Linked DNA regions of Homo sapiens. The protein of the gene in region 1 interacts with the protein of each later gene in a pairwise test. Each region holds a gene or a part of one and is shown on either strand. Other genes may lie near its edges.

Evidence for each region.
Region 2: the proteins of FAM118B (region 1) and RASGRP2 interact in a two-hybrid assay, tested with the Homo sapiens proteins (one large-scale study listed by IntAct).
Region 3: the proteins of FAM118B (region 1) and MCM3AP interact in a two-hybrid assay, tested with the Homo sapiens proteins (one large-scale study listed by BioGRID and IntAct).

The regions. Positions count from the first base shown.
Region 1 is NC_000011.10:126,235,712-126,239,361, forward strand, and holds part of FAM118B (protein FAM118B), read left to right. Parts: intron 1-218; exon of another isoform or gene 219-360; coding exon of another isoform or gene 361-544; intron 545-3,650. Other genes in the region: SRPRA (signal recognition particle receptor subunit alpha), read right to left, coding at 361-544. UniProt on the Homo sapiens protein: May play a role in Cajal bodies formation.
Region 2 is NC_000011.10:64,737,493-64,741,142, forward strand, and holds part of RASGRP2 (RAS guanyl-releasing protein 2), read right to left. Parts: intron 3,588-3,650; coding exon 3,456-3,587; intron 2,958-3,455; exon of another isoform or gene 2,876-2,957; intron 2,672-2,875; coding exon 2,521-2,671; intron 2,318-2,520; coding exon 2,144-2,317; intron 1,985-2,143; coding exon 1,868-1,984; intron 1-1,867. UniProt on the Homo sapiens protein: Functions as a calcium- and DAG-regulated nucleotide exchange factor specifically activating Rap through the exchange of bound GDP for GTP. May also activate other GTPases such as RRAS, RRAS2, NRAS, KRAS but not HRAS.
Region 3 is NC_000021.9:46,279,022-46,282,671, forward strand, and holds part of MCM3AP (germinal-center associated nuclear protein), read right to left. Parts: intron 1,555-3,650; coding exon 1,476-1,554; intron 1,117-1,475; coding exon 972-1,116; intron 1-971.

The DNA.
Region 1 (3,650 bases):
GGTTTGACCATGTTGGTCAGGCTGGTCTCGAACCCCTGACCTCGTGATCCACCCGCCTCGGCCTCCCAAAGTGCTGGGATTATAGGCGTGAGCCACTGTGCCCGGCCTGGTTCAATCCACTTTTAATATTTACATTATTACGACTGTATAAGTAGTATTCATAGCTGAGCCTAATGCGTAACGATTATGTTTCCTTTCTTGCCCATTTTTTTTGCTTATGTCATTAAAGACTGTCTTTTTTGTTTGTTTGTTTGCTTTCAATGTATTCTCACATGCTCTGACAGAAGAATAAATCTCCTAGCTATACTGAAACACACCGATAACTTGCTGGTTTGTGTCATGGATTCTTCCTTCTGGATGCTAGTCCACTCTGGACACTTGTTCTCCAGTCCTGTTGCGTTCCTGATATTTGCTATTTCCCATTCCCATCATCCTGATAATTTCCTTTACATCTCTCCTGTATCGATTCTCTGTTTGCTGGATCTCATGTCCTCTTTTTTGGTGCACGCCTTTGTTTTCCTGAAGCATGTCCTTGCATAGCCTCCTAAGTAAGGACCCATAGGAGAAAATTATTTGGACATATTTGAAAAGGTCTTTATCATACACTTACATTCATTTGATGGTTTGACTGAGTATAGAATTTTTAGTATCTCTCATTCATACTCTGCTAACATCTAAGTATTCCTGCCAAAATAGCCACTCTGTTCTGATTCCCAATCCTTTGTATTGTATGACCTCTTTCCCTGTTTTTTGTTTTGTTTTGTTTCATTTTTGTTGTTGTTGTTGTTCATTAGAAGCTTATAAGGATCATTATTTTATTCTCAGTAACCTGAAATTTCACAGTGATGTATCTTGTCATATGAATCTAGACACCGGGCAGCTCTTTAAAGCTGGCAACTAGTACCTTCACTTTGGAGAAGTTGACTTATATTACTTTTTTGATACTTTCCATTACAATGTTTTTTCTATTCCACATTTTTTTAAAACTCTTGTTATTCAGATGTTGGACTTCTTGTATTAAGTCTCTAATTTTTTATGTGTTGCTTTATTTTTTTCCCCCCCATTTCGTTTTCTTAAATTTAGCTTTCTCGGGGGTTCTCTGTTTTATCTTGTGGATTTAAAAATTTCTGTTGCGTTATTTTTGATTTATGAAGTCTTTTTGTTTGTTCATTTTTTCATAGCACTCTGTTTATGTTTCACAGATGCTTTTTTTTTTTTTTTTTTTTAGACAGAGTCTCACTGTCTCCCAGGCTGGAGTGCAGTGACACTATCTCGGCTCATTGCAAGCTCTGCCTCCCGGGTTCACACCATTCTCCTGCCTCAGCCTCCCGAGTAGCTGGGACTACAGGCGCCCGCCACCATGCCCGGCTAATTTTTTGTATTTTTAGTAGAGACGGGATTTCACTGTGTTAGCCAGGATGGCCTTAATCTCCTGACCTCATGATCCACCTGCCTCAGCCTCCTAAAGTGCAGGGATTACAGACGTGAGCCACCGCGCCTGGCCTTTTTTTTTTTTTTTTTTTTTTTGAGATGGAGTCTCGCTCTGTTGCCCAGGCTGGAGTGCAATGGTGCAATCTCAGCTCACTGCAACCTCTGCCTCCCGGGTTCAAGCAATTCTCCTGCCTCAGCCTCCTGAGTAGCTGGGATTACAAACGTGCTCTACCACACCTGGCTAATTTTTATTTTATTTATTTATTTATTTTTTAAATAAAGACAGGTTTTCACCATGTTGACCAGGCTGATCTCAAACTCCTGACCTCAAGTGATCCACCTGCCTTGGCCTCCCAAAGTGCTGGGATGACAGGCGTGAGCCACCCCACCTGGCCAATTTTAAAAAAATCTAGGCCAGGCTCGGTGGCTCACGCCTGTCATCCCAGCACTTTGGGAGGCTGAGGTGGGCAGATCGTGAGGTCAGGAGATCGAGACCATCCTGGGTACCTGGGTAACATAGTGAAACCCTGTCTCTACTAAAAAAAAAAAAAAAAAAAAAAAAAAATTAGCGGGGCGTGGTGGCGCGTGCCTGTAATCCCAGCTACTCGGGAGGCTGAGGCAGGAGAATCACTTGAACCTGGGAGGCGGAGGTTGCAGTGAGCTGAGATTGTGTCACTGCACTCCAGCCTGGCAACAAAGCTAGACTCCGTCTCCAAAAAAAAAAAAAAAAAGAAAAGAAAAAATATATGTGAGGATATCATTGTTTTCTTTTAATTTTTTTTTCTCCTTCCCATACTATCTCTTATTTCCTTCAGATTTCTCTCTACCTGCTAGTTTGTTTGGTATAACTGTTATGTTGGGGGCTTTCCTCAGATGTGAGGTGACCCTTGTTTGTCTGCCCATTTTTAACAGAAAACACCAAAAAGCCAATGGAAGAGGCCGGGTGCGGTGGCTCACGCCTGTAATCCCAGCACTTTGGGAGGCCAAGGCAGGCGGATCACTTGAGGTCAGGAGTTTGAGACCAGCCTGGCCAACCTGGTGAAACCCCGTCTCTACTAAAAATACAAAAATTGGCTGGGTGTGGTGGCACGTGCCTGTAATCCCAGCTACTCGGGAGGCTGAAGCAAGAGAATCACTTGAACCCAGGAGGCAGAGGTTGCAGTGAGCCAAGATTACGAGATTCCATCTCAAAAAAAAAAGCCAGTTGGAGAATCTGTGTGTACATAAGGGGCTTGGTCCCAGACTCTATGTAGAGTTAAGGAATTCCCACCTGTCAGAATCTGCAGGTTTTTCATCTCATACTGGCCATTTTCCTGAAAGAGGAATCGTCCTCATTTCCTAACTGGATGGGGGATAGGGGTGCAGGTACAGAGTTGATTCCTAGAGTCTGAAAAGCTTCCTCTGGGGAAAGAGAGTTGGGGGAAATCTTGTATTTTATATACAGACTTTTACTTAATCCCCACCCTCAGCTGTGTGCAGTGTTCTCAGATATAGTCCTCTGGTCAACCTCTGCAGAAGGGAAACCTCTAGCCTGCTGAAAGTTGTAACTGTTAAAGGCTTGTAACTGATTCTCCTATTTTAGCCCCACCAGCCCCTCTACCTTTAGATGTACATGAACATTCCCAAAATTCTACCAAGGGAATCGGCCTTTGCATTACAATTGGTAAAATGTTGTTGCCCTTTGACCTCTGTTGTCTGCTGTCATCTTTACCTAGCCTACTTTTTAGGTATATATACCCGCTAAAAAAAAAAAGTAACTATTATTTGGTGGTTTACAAAGAACCAGTAATAAAACACAATTGTTAAATGTTTTATTTTTAAGTGGAAGTCTTTTTTTTTTTTTTTTTCGAGACAAGGTCTTGTTCTGTCACCCAGGCTGGAGTGCAGTGGCACAAACACAGCTCACTGCAACCTCAGCCTCCTGGGCTCACGTGATCCTCCCGTGAACTTAGCCTCCCAGGTAGCTGGGACTACAGACGTGCCTAATTTTCTTTTTCGTTCTTTCTTTGTTTGGCAGAGATGGGGTCTCACTAAGTTGCCTAGGCTTGTCTCAAACTCCTGGGCTCAAGCTCAGCCTCCTAAAGTGCTGAGATTACAGGCATGAACCACTGCACTTAGCCAAATTGGAAGTCTTAATTAGGAAGAATTATAGTTCAAATCTGTATGTTATATAAAAAAATACAGTACAACAGTATAAAATGAAAAGTAAAAAGTCCTTA
Region 2 (3,650 bases), about 61 Mb from region 1:
AACCTCATCTCTACTAAAAAAATACAAAAATTAGCCGGGTGTGGTGGTGCATGCCTGTAGTCCCAGCTACTCAGGAGGCTGAGGCAGGAGAATCGCTTGAACCCGGGAGGCAGAGGGTGCAGTGATGCAGTGAGCCAAATTAGCGTCACTGCACTCCAGCCTGGCGACAGAGCAAGACTCCATCTCAAAAAAAAAAAAAAAAAGAAAGAAAAAGAAAGAAAGAAAAGAAAAGGAAAAACCCCAACATTCAACAATAGAATCAATACATAAATTGGGGTAGGCTGGGGGCAGTGGCTCACACCTGTAATCCCAGCACTTTGGGAGGCTAAAGCGGGTGGATTGCCTGAGCTCAGGAGTTCAAGACCAGCCTCGGCAACATGGTGAAAGCCTGTCTCTACAAAAAATTAGCCAGACGTGGTGGTACGAGCCCATAATCCCAGCTACTCAGGAGGCTGAGGCACGAGAATCACGTAAACCCAGGAGACGGAAGTTGCAGTGATGAGATCTCGCCACCGCACTCCAGCCTGGATGACAGAGACAGACTCCATCTCAAAAAAATAAATAAATAAATGAATTGGGGTAGACGTACAATAAAATATTATATGGCAATGAAAATGAAAAAACAATTGCTCCACATGACAGAATGAAAAGACTCTCAGAACCATGTGGAATGAAAAAAGCAAGACATAAAATAACACAAACAACATTCCATTCATAGAAAGTTCAAAACAGACAACAAAAAGCCCCACATTGTTTTGGACCGCATACCTACATGGTGAAGCTATAAAGAAAAGCAAGATCATCATTGCAAAAGTCGTGGGGAGGGAGTTATGCTCTAAAGTGCTGGGCGCTTGGGGGCCTGGCAAGGTTCTATTTCCCAACCCGGGCAGTAGTTACACAGTGTTTTCTTTACAATTTTTCTTTAAACTATTCATATGTTTTTATATACTTTTCTTTTTTTTTAGATGGAGTCTCACTCTGTCGCCCAGGCTGGAGTGAAGTGGCACAATCTTGGCTCACTGCAACCTCCGCCTCCTGAGTTCAAGTAATTCTCCTCCTGCCTCAGCCTCCCAAGTAGCTTGGATTCCAGGTGCGTGCCACCATGCCTGGCTAATTTTTGTATTTTAGTAGAGATGGGTTTCCACCTTGTTGGCCAGGCTGGTCTCAAACTCCTGATGTCACGTGATCTGCCCACCTCAGCCTCCCAAAGTGCTGGGATTACAGGTGTGAGCTACTACGCCCAGTCTCATATGTTTTTATATACTTTTCTATATGTATGTTACTCAATACTTCAAAATACTTCAAAAATAATAAAAAATGAAGGAGAAAGAAAAGAAGAAACTACAAGTGGCAAGGCACAATGGCTCAAGCCATAATCTCAGCACTTTGGGAGGCCAAGGCAGGCGGATCACTTGAGCCCAGGAGTTCAAGACCAGTCTGGGCAACATGGCAAAACCCCATCTCTAAAAAAAAAAAAAAAAATTAATAACAATACAAAAATTAGGCATGGTGGCGTACACCTGTAGTCCCAGCTACTCAGGAGGCTGAGGTGGGAGGATCGATTGAGCTCAGGAGTTCAAGGCTGCAGTGAGCTTGTGACTGCACCACTGAACTCCAGTCTGGACAACAGAGAGAGAGACCCTGTCTTAAAAAAAAAAAAAAAAGTACTAGCTTTGGGGTCCCTGACGACCTGTGAGCCCCCACTCTGCTGTTGCCATTGTGCAAACTGAGAAAAGCACTTAACCCCTCTGAGCCTCCATTTCCATATCTATCAAATGAGGACAGCTGTGCCCAGCCCCCAGTGCTGCTGGGAGGACCCAGTGAAGACAGACCTGGGAAGCACCGGCCCCTCCCCAGTCCCAGGCACCTTGATGGTCTCAGGGCTAACGTGGCTGTGGGTCTCCTTGAGGCGGGAGATGGAGCTGTGGCTCAGGCCCCCGACCACTGCCATCAGCGTGTTGAAGTTCTGCAGCTGTAGCAGCTTCTGGAAGGCAAATGGGGACGGAGAGGCAGGGAGTCACTGAGTGGGCCCAGAATTTGGCCCAGCTTATCTAGAGAGAAGGCAGTGGGTTAGGGGAAGGGAAGGGTTGGCCTGACTGGCATGTGGGGTGGTTGGGAGACACCGGGAGGGAGGGGCAGGCACCTCCGCCACGTGGACAAAGTGTGTGATGACCAGGGCCCGCTGCGGGGCTGTGGGTTTGCTGAGGATCATGAGCTGCACCCACTGTGAGACGCTGTTGAAGAGGGAGATGAACCGCTCCAGGACGGGGTTGTCCACAGTGCAGCCATGAGTCACGAAACTGTGATAGTCCTGAAACTGGGGGCATGAGGAGTGGCCTCAGCACCTTGCTGGCCTCTCCCCTCACTGATAGCCACTCCTCACCCTCCAGCTGACCTTCAGTGGTTACACTGAAACCCCTGATGCACCCTGTGACCCAGCCTACGCCAGGGACCCTGCCCCTCCTAGAACTCTCTTCCAGCCCACATTGGACCCCTGACCCCCCAGCCCTCGGGCCGCACCAGGATCTTGCAGAAGGAGCGATACTCCAAGTAGGTGAGATGCTCCGCCAGCTCCATGGGCTCCAGGTGGTCAAACAACAGGGACATCTTGCGCTTTTTCTGTCCCACAGGGTTCCGCTGAGTCACCTGCCGCTTCCACTTGTAGGTAGGGCTGGGGGGGCAGGGGTAGTGAGCCCTTTGCTGGACATGCGCATGACTCGTGGCCCCCCACTCACACAGACACACCATTCACGCTTACTGAGAACCTACATAATGCGAGGCACTGTCCTAGGCACGAATGTTCCCAGTCCCAGCAACTCCTCCTCATCTCCCCCGACCCCGTCATGCACTCAACACACATTTATGAACAACGTACTCTGTGCCAGGCACTGTGCTAGGCGCTGGGAATACAGAGATGAGTAAGACACGGTTCCTGCCCTCGAGGAGCTCACAGTCTACTGAGGGAGACAGACACAGAAACACATGATCACAAAACAGCGTGACACATGTACAGAGGTCTTTGTACAGGAGTCTGTACAAAGTGCCATGGAAAACAGAGGTGGGAACGACAAATTCTACCCCGGAAGAGCCCCGAACCCTCAGAGCCCACGGAGACTTCATGCCTGAACTGAGTCTTGGTAACACGGAGGAGGCAGCAAGGGGGATGATATGAGCAGAGCACCATGATGAGAAAGGACTCGAGAGCTCAGCCGACGGGGAGCCGACCCAGCGCAGCTACAGGAGGAGGTGTGTGGGATGGGTGGTGGCAGTGGAAGATGAGGCAGGAACGCCAAGCTGCCCAGAGGAGGCATGTTGAAGGCAATAGGGAGCCATGGAAGGTTTTTAAGCGAGAGAGCAACATGACCCTCACTCATTCAGTTCAACAGACATTTATTAAGCACAGATGGTATAGGATACTGAGTGCCCCCCCAGCCCTCTGTGCTCCCCCCACGCACACGCTGTCTATGTCGATTAGGCTGCTGTGCCGTCGGTTCCCTTCTTGGTCTAGCAGAGCCTTCAGCTCCTTGATCTGCTCAGCCAACTCCGGGTTCAAGTCAAACTCCGCTGGGAAGGCGGAGATCCAGTACCTGGAGGAGCGGGGAGTCACCCAAGATAGCCCTTCCCCCACCATCACCCAGCAGGCTGCAAGG
Region 3 (3,650 bases), on another chromosome or scaffold:
TGCTGAAAGTGATTATTAGAAATGCATGGTTTGGCCGGGCATGCATCTCTAGTCAGGAGTTCGAGACCAGCCTGGCCAACATGGTGAAACCCCATCTCTACTAAAAATACAAAAATATTAGCTGGGCGTGGTGGAGCGCACCTGTAATCTCAGCTACTAGGGAGGCTAAGGCAGGAGAATTTCTTGAACCCAGGAGGCAGAGGTTGCAGTGAGCCAAGATCGTGCCACTGAACTCCAACCTGGGCAACAGCCAGACTGTGTCTCAAAAAAAAAAGGAATGCATGGTTTATTACAGCCAGTTAAATGTCTTGAGGTAAAAAGTTATTGCTTATACATTTATATGTCAAGTGGAACTGCACTTAACTGCAGTGGGATTCAGGACGAGTTAGATGAGCAAGGAGATTTCCTACTACAATCCTGTGAGGCAGGCAGCGACCCGCCACAGGGCGCCAGCCTGCGTGTGTCCCACAGAGCAGGCACTCTGTGCAAGGACAGAAGTTCTGCTGTCCTAAGTGAGCAGCCTCCCCTGGATCTCCTGTAGCTGCAGCTGAAAGGTCTGTACCAGCTATAACAACTGTGTGATGAGATTCTCCCATAGAAAATGCCAAGATGGAAACAAGAAAAAAAGGCCAGCCCCAAAGGAAGGCTTTCTCAGCAACCTTGGCCCTAGGGTATATGAGAACAAGACAGGACAGAATCACTGCTCTCCACCATCTCTGCAGCTGGCAGTTACCAGTGTCAGAAAATTCTCTCTTCTGGCTGGGACCACCAGCCCCACACAGACCCACCTCCTAACGGCCCATGCTGGCAGGAGGGGCAGAGCCCCTGCCCCTCCACCCCCAACCATCCCTAGCAACTGGCTTTTGTCTCCTCACCACTCCCCACAGTCTTGCACCCTGACTCAGGTGTCGCTATAGGGCGCTATTTCCTGGTCCTTCCGGAATAAGGTCATTAGGAGGGACCGATCCCACCTTTTATTCAGGAGGCTGCTAGCACCAGTCCTCCCTGCGGCCTTGCCAAGAGGAGAGTGCTGAAAGGGTGCATCCTCTGTGCTCGGGCTGACTTCACCGTCACCTGGTTTCTTCTCCTTCAGGGAAAAGGGTTTCTTATTGGGGCCTGTGGACATAGGAGGCAGAAAAGAGTTTATGCAATCACAGATCACCTGGAACTGGATTTTTTCACTCTGTTTCTAAGAAAGTAATATTATTTTCATTGTCACAGGAGGTTAGAGAAGAGCCCAAGGAAATAACTGTGAGATGCAAATCCACTGAGAGCCAGCCTCCTCCACTGGCTGGGGAAAGGGCTCACGCTCAAAGGGTTTGGACCAAGAGCATGAGAAACTGAAAAGAGGGCCATGCACAATGGCTCATGCCTGTAATCCCAAGATCAGACTGGGCAACATAGCGAGATCTCATCTCTATAAAATAAATAAAAATAATTTTTTTAAAAAGTGAAAAGAATAATTGAAAACTCACTTATTTTCTTCCTGTGCCAAAAGATAGCCATGTCTTTATGCAAACTTTTCCCCTTCTTTCTAGCCAGGGCTGCAGATGCCTGGAAAACAGTCCACAACCGCCATGTGTGAGTATATCAGGAAACCAAAGGAAATGGGATTGAAAACTCAAATGCAGTAAGCACAACAGACCATTCAAAGGCACCAGGAGCTCCTGTCCTTTGCACGACAGTGATTTCTCCACCCACACGTCTGCTAACTGCATGGTCTCTGGCTGCGGCAGCAGCAGTATTCATCTCCCTTACCTGTCTCACAAGCATGTATTTGCTCTTTCCCCCTTTTTTTTTTTGAGACAGAGTCTCGCTCTGTCAGCCAGGCTGGAGTGCGGTGGTGAGATCTCAGCTTACTGCAATCTCCACCTTCAGGGTTCATGCATTCTCCTGCCTCAGCCTCCTGAGCAGCTGGGACTACAGGCGCCCGCCACCACATCCGGCTAATTTTTTGTATTTGTAGTAGAGACGGGGTTTCACCGTGTTAGCCAGGATGGTCTTGATCTCCTGACCTCAGGTGATCCGCCCACCTTGGCCTCCCAAAGTGCTGGGATTACAGGCGTGAGCCACCGCGCCCGGCCCCTTTTTTTTAATTAACAACTTTGCTTCATAGAACTCACAAACTTGGCCTTGTTGGCATTTGGTGAGATGATTCTCACCAGCTGATCACACATACAGAGACAGAAAGTTTGCGAAGTCACAATTAAGCACAAAAGGGAGCTGCAGAATAACACACATGGGATGCCACTTACCACAGAAAACACACACAAAACCAACCACGTTAGTCTCCGTGTAGATACACTCATAAAAATGTCTAAAAAAATACACATCACACTAGTTAACTGGACTGCTCCTGAGTAACAGGAGAGATGAGGATATTCAGTTTTGTCTGTATCAATGAATTGTTTATAAAGGCAGTCTATTTACATATTAGTTATGTCATAAAATATTTAAGGTTCAGCTGGGAAAATAAGCACATTGCAACAGGCAAAAAATAACTGTAAAAACAAAAGGGGGTTGGGCATGGTGGCTCATGCCCGTTATCCTAGCACTTTGGGAGGTGGAGGTGGGAGGATCACTTGTGCCCAGGAATTTAGGACCAGCCTGGGCCACATAGTGAAACTTCATCTCAAAAAAATAAATAAATAATAAAATAACAATAAAATAAATAGTAGTAATAAATAATAAAAACAAGGCCAGGCATGGTGGCTCACGCCTGTAATCCCAGCACTTTGGGAGGCCAAGGTGCGTGGAACACTGAGGTCAGGAGTTCGAGACCAGCCTGGCCAACGTGGTGAAACCCCCTCTCCACTAAAACTACAAAAATTAGCCAGGCATGGTGGTGCACACACAATCCCAGCTACTTGGGAGGCTGAGGGAGGAGAATCGCTTGAACTGGAAAGGTAAAGGTTGAAGTGAGCCAAGATTGCGCCACTACAATACAGGCTGGGAGACAGAGCAAGGCCCCGTCTCAAAAACAACAACAACAAAAATGAGAGCCGGTACAATGACTCAGGTCTGTAATCCCAACATTTTGGGAGGCTAAGGCAGGAGGACAGCTTGAGGACCGGAGTTCGAGACCTGCCTGAGCAACACAGTAAGACCCCATCTATACAAATGTAAAAATACAAACTTTTTTTAATTAAAAAAATTAAAACTAAAAACAAATTAGGATTACCATATGACCCAGCAATTCCAATCCTAAGAATATACCCCAAAAAACTGAAAGCAGGGACTCAAATAAGTCATATGCCAATGAACATTATTCACAATAGCCAAAAAGTAGAAACAACCCGCGTCTGCCAACAGACGAATCAACAAAACGTAGTCCATCCACTCAATGTAGTATCATTCACTTTATAAATTTATACTTTATAAATTCCTATAGAACGTAATTTTGTCTATGAGAATACTCAGAAAAAATAGTGACGATATAAAGCTATATAACATAAGCAGTCCACGTTCACTGCACCCTAGAAAGTATTATGCATACATTTAGGCTGGGCGCAGTGGCTCACGCCTGTAATCCCAGCACTTTGGGAGGCCGAGGCAGGCAGATCGTGAGGTCAGGAGATCGAGACCATCCTGGCTGACACAGTGAAAGCCCGTATCTACTAAAAATACAAAAAAATTAGCCGGGTGTGGTG